Linked DNA regions of Homo sapiens: region 2 is linked to region 1. Evidence: fine-mapped expression QTL. A gene starts in region 1. The other region holds a variant in brackets. All regions are shown on one strand. Distances are from middle to middle. Region 1 holds the start of BRPF1 (bromodomain and PHD finger containing 1). Region 2 overlaps OGG1 (8-oxoguanine DNA glycosylase).

Region 1 (4,384 bases):
AAGTCCACCCCCATGCTGTCACATCTAGAATACACAGATCAGTTAACATAAGGCTGGGGATGAGTTCCTGGCCATTTGCACCAGAGACCCCAGTCTTTCTAGCCCTCCCCCTCACTTGGAGTCACCAGATTCTGGCCAGCCTACCTCTACAGTGTCTCCAAATGCCATCTCCTCCACCATAGCCCATATCTGGGCCCTCATCACCTCTTGCCTGGTTATCCTGCCCTATGTCTCAACTTCTTTAGCCCAATCTCACATCATGTAGGAGAATGATCTTTCTACCAGGTAGTAATGATCATGACACTCTCTTCATTAAAAGCCTCCTGATGCTCCCAGTTCCTTCAAGATAATATTCCAAATTCTCTATGATGCCATTCAAAGAGCTCCTTTCACTGACTGGCCCTAGTCCTCCTTTCTTTTTACAAGTTACAGCTGTTTTTGTCTACACAGGGGATCTTGCCATTCCCTGAATGTTATAACCTCTCATTCCTGCAAAATGATCCCTATTTGGAATGCCCTCCATACTTTCTGATTGGTGGGCTCCTACTCATTCTTCAAAAAACCAGCTCAAATGTCACTTCTGACACAACTTCTCTGACTCTCCCATGGGGAGCTGTTTCCACAGCATTCCATTCTCACCTCTACCACAGCACTTGACATACTGAAAGTTGTCTCCCCCCTGGACTGGGAGCTGTGTAGCAAGGGTACCAGAGCCTATCCACCTCTGTATCCCCAGTACCTAGCATGCACTGGACATTCAGTTTTTGGCGAACGAATGAATGACCTGTTGAACGAATAGCTGAATGAGGGGATCACCAGACTGAGAGCTCAGATGGGATGAAGGCCATGTAGAAAGCTGAATGGGTGGGTGGCTAATGCTTTAGCGTTGGACTCCTGCAGAAATCACTGGATCACAGAAAGAATTCATTTACTTTTGAGGTCTTTATGGGGAGCCTGGCCCTGGTACTGGGTAGGAGATGTACTGTGAAACAAAGTGAAAACTGAGGTCATTTAGTCAGTGACAGCAGCTTGTATTACATTTGAGCTGTTCACCCACTCACACATCAACTGAGTGACTACCAAGTGCCAGGCCCTAAGGGTACAAACACGAACGCGACAATCTAGGCATGCTCAGCTCCATGCTGGTCCGCAGGGGCCCTCCCTCCCCGCTCCCCAACATTCCTGGGTGAGTGTAGACAGCAGATGGCACCAGGCCTCAGGAAGCCCAGCTTGGTCAGAGACTGCCCCAATTTCTCTCGGCCTAGTTGAGTTCAACCATTCAGCTAGGGGCTTGGCACCATCCCAGCCAGGCAGGGCTATCATGAGCTCCCTGACAAAATAACCCCTCTTGGCCTCTCCACCTGTGCCTTAACCAGGCAAGTGGGCTGCTCCAGCTCCACTGTCAACGGCTCCTGATTTTCACATCAGTAACGCTACACGTCCAACTGCAACTCTTCTATTTCCTACCTGCGGCTGTGTCTTTAAACATAAACCAACCGAAGCACAAACAAGCTCTCCTCTTTCCAAGCTGGGTCCCGGGTGAATGGTTCCCAAAGTAGCACAGCGAATCAGCAATCTCCCCTTGGAACCCGGCAGCAGAGGCACAGGCGAGGGAGACGAGAACTTAGACCAGAAAGCCCGTGGGGAGGGCCCAAGGAGAATGGCGGCTGCATCTGCCCCTGAAGCTCAGGGGGCTGGAGGAAGTAAGGGGCGGGGGCCGGAGGGATAGGGCTGGGCCCCGGCAGTGCCCGCAGCCCACTCTCCGGATGCGGCGGCGTTTCCCCTTTGTGGAAGTGTAACAAGTGAAACAAGGCTCCCCGCCTGCCACTAGCCCGGGCAGCCCCGAAAGATACACTGTTGCCCCAGGATGCCTGCTGGGAAGCAATGCACTGTCAGTTCTCCCAACTGGAGTTGCCAGAGAGGTTCCCGGGCCACGCGGCTCAGTGCGCGTCCCACGAACGTAGCCTACCCCTTCCCTGCCGGCCACTCCCGCCCTGGTCCCAGGCCCGCACTCACCGGCCACCTCGAGTCCGGGCTCATCGCCGGGGGCGCCCGCCGGGGCTCCGACCCCACTTGGGGAGGTCGGCGGGGAAAGTCGGGCCGGGAAGGGGGAGCCCCAACTCCGGAGACCGTAGACCTCGCCACCCCGGCCCCCTGCCGCCCCACGCTTTGGTCCCGGCTCCCCGGGATTCCTGAGCTGACCCCTGCCGCTCCTGGTCCCGCCGGCGCCCTGGGGTCTCAACTCCGTCGGCCGCCGCCCGTTTCGCGAGCCCCCAAGATGCCCGGTCTCGGGACCGGGCGCTGCTGGAACAATGGAGGCTCCCAGAGGCAGCGCGAGGACAGCGGCGGCGGAGACCGTGGCGGCAAAGGCTGTGGCAGCGGCGGCGGCAGCAGCGGCGGCGACGGCGTCTGCGCAGGGTAAACGTGGCGCCGCGGCGCTACTGAGCTGCACTTTCGCCACGGATCCCCGCCCGCCCGCTGAGGCTCGAAAGACCGTGCTCCGGGATTCAGAAAGGACCCTGGACACCCCACAGGGCTTCTCTAGCTCTCCCATCTTAGAGTGGAGTTTCTGGAGACTGAAGTCACCGTACTCGGGATCTGGGGTCGTCGGGCGGTTTGTGGCGAATCTGCAACCACGGACGGTGAGCGCGGGGCTGGGCGTGAGGAGCCCGCCCTTCTCCCCTCCCCCTCTGCCTCCTCCCTATCCGCTCCCTGCCTCCTGCTGGCGCCGCGGCTGCGGGAGGGACCTGGCCTTGGTCTCGGAGGAAGGCGGTGAGGCGGGGCCAGAGTCACGGGGCGGGGCTGGGGGCAGGGCCGGGAGCAAGAGGGATGCGGGCTGGAGCCTAAGGGACCGGTAGTTATGGGTAGGACCGGGGCGGGGCTGGAGACTAGACCGGTCTGTGGGGCGGGGCTTGTGGGAGGGGGCGGGGCTACCGCACAGCGGGGGCCTGTTAGAATAGCGGGGTAAAAAGTGGGGCTAAACAGAAGAAGAGTACTCGCGAGAGAAAGGGCGGAGCTTTGGATGAGCCTGGAAAGTGGAGCTGGACTAGAAATAAAGAACAAAGTTGGAAAAAGCGATGCGACGCTGAAGGGAGCAGGCGGGGCTTGGTAAGGCAGGGGCGGAGCTGTGGGGAAAGGGCAGGACCGATTAGGGATAACGGGGCGTGACTGAAGGAAAGGGAAGAAACTTGGGAAAAGTAAAGGAGAGGTGCTAGAGAAAAGGTATGGGTCTGAGAGAAGGGGCTGGTTTGGGGCCGGTGGGTGTGAAAGGGCTTGTCTGGTAAAGCGGTGGGAAATCTGTGGGTTGGCAGGGATGTGCTGCGGGTTGCTGATTGGAACATGGTGCCAAAACAGCTGATTTAATGTGAGTGGGTCACCTCCTAGCAATGTGAACGTGGGCAAGTTCAGTTCTTTAAGTTCCTTATTTGTAAAACAGAGCTCGAAAACTCTGTTGTTAGTTCTTGAGGGTTTCAGAGAACTTGCATGGCAGGGGGAGACATCCTTAAACAATACTTCTCCAGTTTTGTCATCAAAGAGGAGCGTGAAAGGTCTTCCAGGGTTCTGGGACAAAGCCCAAAGCATCTGAAAGCTTCTATCTTCTTAATGCAAACTTTGCATTTGACCCAATAAAATGTATGTTTTCTAAAAACCATCCCAATAAAATCGACATGCCAGGAAGAGGTTTGCTGATTAAGATCTTGGGATCTGAAGTCAAACTGATGAATTATCTTAAATGACTCATCTTCTCAGAGCCTCAGTTTCCTTATGGGTAAAGTGGGAATAATATATAGTACCTGTTCTCAGAGTTGTTGTGAGAATTAAATGAGATGATGCTTGTAAATCACCTAGCACACGGTTTGACATGTAGTGAATGTTCAAAGAAAATATTAGCTGTTATTATCCTTATTAAAATAATTCAGAATAGATGGATCAAAGCAGAGTTATACTAAGTTATCTCCTTTAGTGGTCAGGAATTCGTTTGAGAATCTGCTGAGAACTATGGGTCGTGTGTAGGATTCGGATTTTATGGAAAAAAGAAAAAAAACAACTATGGGCCTCTCTCCTGAGGAAAAACATACAAAGTTTCACTTATTAAGGTCTTTGAAGAATGTATGAAGAAGTGATTGGATGAACGTGTTAGGATGGGGATGAATCTAACTGAAGCCATCCTGGTTCCCTCCCTCTTGATGTGGCCCCAGTCGTTGGGTCCCATAGTCTTCCTTCGCCAACATGCATGAGACAGAGGTGGAATAAAGATCAGCTTTATTATTGGCATGAAGGCAGAGAGGTGGTGATAGTGCCAGGCCCTCTGCAGGCAAGGAGGCGGAGGGCTTGTCAGCCAGCACTGATCCTCCAAGTTGGCCCTCCCAGTGAAGTCCAGGGT
Region 2 (4,384 bases), 22 kb before region 1:
CTGACCTCAAGTGATCTGTCCACCTTGGCCTCCCAAAGTGCTGGGATTACAGGCGTGAGCCACCATGCGCGGCCTATGAATACACTGAAATTGCTGTAATAAGAGGTGCTACTAGCTGAACACCTATGTGGGCCAGGTTATCATAACCTGGGAAGAAGGTATTACCACACCCACTTTACAGACAAGAAAACTGAGGCTTTGAAAGGTGAAGTGACCTGGCCAAAGTCACATGGCTGAGAATAGGCAGAACCAAGATTTAATGTTAGGCTGTAGTCCAAAGCCCATCAAAAAAAAATCTTTAAGCAAAAATTCATTTTTTAAACTACAGAGAAGTATAAAGAAAAAAAAAGGCTGGGTGCAGTGGCTCACGCCTGTAATCCCAGCACTTTGGGAGGCTGAGGCAGGTGGATCTCGAGGTCAGATTGAGACCATCCTGGCCCAACATGGTGAAACCCCATCTCTACTAAAAATACAAAAATTAGCTGGGTGTGGTGGCGCATGCCTGTAATCCCAGCTAATCTGGAGGCTGAGGCAGGAGAATAGCTTGAAGCCGGGAGGCGGAGGTTGCAGTGAGCCGAGATTGCACCACTGCACTCCAGCCTGGCAACAAAGCAAGACTCCACCTCAAAAAAAAAAAAAAAAAGACAAATGCCTAATTTCCAGTCATCTTATTGCCAGTTAACCCTATTGACATCAAGCAAAAAGTTTTGTCAGTACATGTCATTTTACGAAAGGAACAAAATGTGGCCGGGAGCAGTGGCTCATCCCTGTAATTCCAGCACTTTGGGAGGGCAAAGCAGGAACACTGCTTGAGGGCAAGAGTTTAAGACCAGCCTAGGCAACATTGTTAAGAGCCTATTTCTACCAAAACAAACAAACAAACAAAAAACCGAAAAGAAGAAATATCTTCCCATTTGTCTCCCCCAAGGAAACTATTATTTAGTTTCCTGCAATTTCCTTCTGGAAATTGCTGCATATATATAGCAGCATATATGTGTTGCATCTGAACAAATGGTCTTTCTAGAAATTCATTCAAAGGGCTATATCCTTTCTACTCTTTCTGCACTCTGCTTTTTTCTCTCATAAAACATCTACTTATATCCTTTCTCCTTCCTGCTCTGCCTCCGGAAGCCAAGCCTCCACCCAGCTCCCAGGCTTGGCTCATTTCCTGCTCTCCTCTTAGTGTCAGTAGAGAGGGCAGCTCCTACCCCCTGGGGCCTCACCTTGGTGCCCACTCCAGGCAGGATGCAGAGGGCCTTGTGGGCCTCCTCATATGAGGACTCTCGTAGCTGCTGCAGCCAGGCTAGCCCGCCCTGTTCTTCCAGGATGGCTCGGGCACTGGCACTCACGTAACGGGCACGATAGCCCAGGCCCAGCTTCCTGAGATGAGCCTCCACCTCTGGCCCTGCGGGGAGTGAGGAGGAGGGCAAGCATCAGGCATCTTCAAGTTCTTCCTGTCCTTAGGCTAGTAAGTGAGCTCTCTACCTCACAAGAGTGCTTTTCCTAAGTTCCCCTCCTACCTCCCCACCCTCTATGGGATAGTGGACACTTTTATGTGCAAGGGAAAGGGTTAGGCCTGGGTCCTGTCCCTCTACACATGTTTTCTGAGCACCTGCTATGAATTGGCCCCGGAGCCCAAGTCTAGTCCAGGGACTGAGGACTTGCTTCCCTTGAGGAGCTCCCCAACTGAGTTCCTTAACCTTTCCGAAAGAGTGTTCACACTCATGATCTAAAAAAATAACCACAATATAGCAACAGCTTCTATGATCAAGTGCTAGGCAACATGCTTCAGATATATTATCATGCTTACTTTTCCCAAGAACCCCACTGACAGTACTGCTGTTTTCCCATTTTACATGTGGAGAAAATGAGGGCTTAGAAGAGGTTAACTTACTTAAGAAAGGACATGGGGGAGATAAGATCTTGCACCTAGGTCTGGGACACCAAGACCTGTGCTTTTTCTTTTTTTGACACAGGGTCTTGCTCTGTCACCCAGGCTGGAATGCAGTGGCACAATCTCAGTTCACTACAGCCTTGACCTCCTAAGGCTCAAGCGATCCTCCCACCTCAGCCTCCTGAGTAGCTGAGACTACAGGCTTGTGTCACCATGCCTGGCTAATTTTGTTTATTTTTTGTAGAGATGAGGTCTCACTATGTTGCCCAGGCTGGTCTCAAACTCCTGGGCTCAAGCCATCCTCCCACCTTGGGCTCCCAAAAGTGCTGAAATTACCAGCATGAGCTACCCCACCTGGCTAACGCCGTGCTCTTAACCCATTACACTACACTGCCTCATGATTGCTTTATTCACTCCCAAAGCCCTTCTAGATAGAAACTGTTATTCCCATTCTACAAACAAGCTAAGAGAAGCCGGAAGAGGTGAATGACTTTCTTGAGGCCTTATGACTAACTAAGCCAGGAGCTGAGACTCAAGAACAGGTTTCTTTTTTTTTTTGTTGAGACAGAGTCTCACTCTGTCGCCCAGGCTGGAGTGCAGTGGCACGATCTCGGCTCACTGCAAGCTTCGCCTCCCGGGTTCACGCCATTCTCCTGCCTCAGCCTCCCAAGTAGCTGGGACTACAGGCGCCCACCACCACACC[C/T]GGCTAATTTTTTTTGTATTTTTAGTAGAGACGGGGTTTCACCGTATTAGGCAGGATGGTCTTGATCTCCTGACCTCGTGATCCACCCGCCTCGGCCTCCCAAAATGCTGGGATTACGGGTGTGAGCCACCACGCCCGGCCAGGTTTTTTTTTTTTTTTTGAGACGGAGTCTCGCCCTGTCGCCCTGTCGCCCAGGCTGGAGTGCAATGGCATGATCTCAGCTCACTGCAACCTCTGCTTCCCAGGTTCAAATGATTCTCCCGCCTCAGCCTCCTGAGTAGCTGGGATTACAGGTACCTGCCACCACGCCCAGCTAATTTTTAGCAGAGAGCGGGTTTCACCAGGTTGGCCAGTCTGGTCTCAAACTCCCGACCTCAGGTGATCCACCTGCCTCAGCCTCCCAAAGTGTTGGGATTACAGGTGTGAGCCACCGTGCCTGACCCAGGTTTCTTTTTGTTTGTTTTGAGATGGAGTCTCGCTCTGTAACCCAGGCTGGAGTGCTGTGGTCTGATCTTGGTTCACTGGAGCCTCCTGCTCCCGGGTTCAAGCAATTCTCCTGCCTCACCCTCCGGAGTAGCTGGGACAGGTGCCTGCCATCACGCCTGACTAATTTTCGTATTTTTAGTAGAGATGGGGTTTCACCATGTTGGCCAGGCTGGTCTTGAACTCCTGACCTCAGATGATCTGCCTGCCTCGACCTCCCAAAGTGTTGGGATTACAGGCGTGAGCCACCACGCCCGGCCAGGAATGGGTTTCTAAGCACCAAAAACATTCTCCTGTTTTGAGGCAGTCTGTCTCTTTGCTATGCAGTTCCCAAGCACTTGTCCTAGCTTGGTTCTCACATCTGCCAATCGATACACTTGCCTCTGTAAAACATTTGCCTTACAGGGCTACTGTGAAGAACACACGTGTTCTTAGATACAAAACTATCCCATTCACTACAATGATACCAGCTTGAATTTTTTTTTTTTTTTTTTTTTTTGAGACAGAGTCTCGCTCTGTTGCCCAGGCTGGAGACGGGGTTTCACTGTGTTAGCCAGGTGTGAGCCACTGCGCCTGGCTGATACCAGCTTGAATTTTACATATACTTCCTGTGTGCCAAACACTGTGCTAGGTGCAGTATGTATATTCCTTTCTTCAACCCTCATGACAACTCCAATAATAGCATAGGTAGGTGCTATTATTATTCTACTTCACAGATGAAGAAACTTTAGTACAGAGATGCTAAATAATGTGCCCAAGTGAGAGTTGGGGTTCAGAACCAGGCATGGGTCTGTCCCCAGAATGCATGCTCTTAACCCCAAACTACTGTACATTGTATACAGATATTTTTCTGATTAGGCATTGAACCCATTGGGCAAAAAGCACAGACCAGTGAGGTGCTGACATTTTAGGGATGCATAGGGAGGATGAGTAACTGGAGTTGATCAGACCAGGCAGGGCGGTTCTGGATAGGGGAAGTGTTTGGGAAGGCAGGAAGCCTTGAGAAGGTAACCAGGGGAGAAATGAACAGATCTTGAAAGCTGATGGAAGGCCTGGGGGCAGGGGACCCACCTACTCACCAGCCAGGGCCTGCAGGCTGGGGAAGCCATGGTAGGTGACATCATCAAGCTGGATGAGCCGAGGTCCAAAAGCCTGGCACAGCCGCTCCACCATGCCAGTGATGCGGGCGATGTTGTTGTTGGAGGAACAGATAAAAGAGAAAAGGCATTCGATGGGGTCTTGTCGCAGCAGTCGCACACCTGGAGACCAGAAATGCAGGGGGTAGGAGAGGTACCTGCTGTTGG

The links. PIP is the estimated chance that this variant, and not a neighbour inherited with it, causes the effect.
Region 2: its variant is fine-mapped to the expression of BRPF1 in whole blood (TOPMed, PIP above 0.99).

The regions. Positions count from the first base shown.
Region 1 is chr3:9,729,771-9,734,154 of GRCh38, reverse strand. It overlaps BRPF1 (bromodomain and PHD finger containing 1), which reads right to left and starts at 2,420. Exons shown (of 14, transcript NM_001003694.2): 1 at 2,017-2,420; 2 at 1-24. The coding sequence starts at 14. CPNE9 (copine family member 9) reads right to left here. Exons shown (of 21, transcript NM_153635.3): 21 at 4,247-4,384. RefSeq lists enhancers at 1,305-1,864, 2,425-2,984 and silencers at 1,942-2,071, 2,082-2,131, 2,602-2,961.
Region 2 is chr3:9,751,725-9,756,108 of GRCh38, reverse strand. It overlaps OGG1 (8-oxoguanine DNA glycosylase), which reads right to left. Exons shown (of 7, transcript NM_002542.6): 3 at 4,160-4,339; 4 at 1,224-1,405. Among named protein-coding and RNA genes, the nearest start is that of OGG1, 4.0 kb to the right of the region's middle. The variant C/T (reference allele first, on the strand shown) is at 2,598.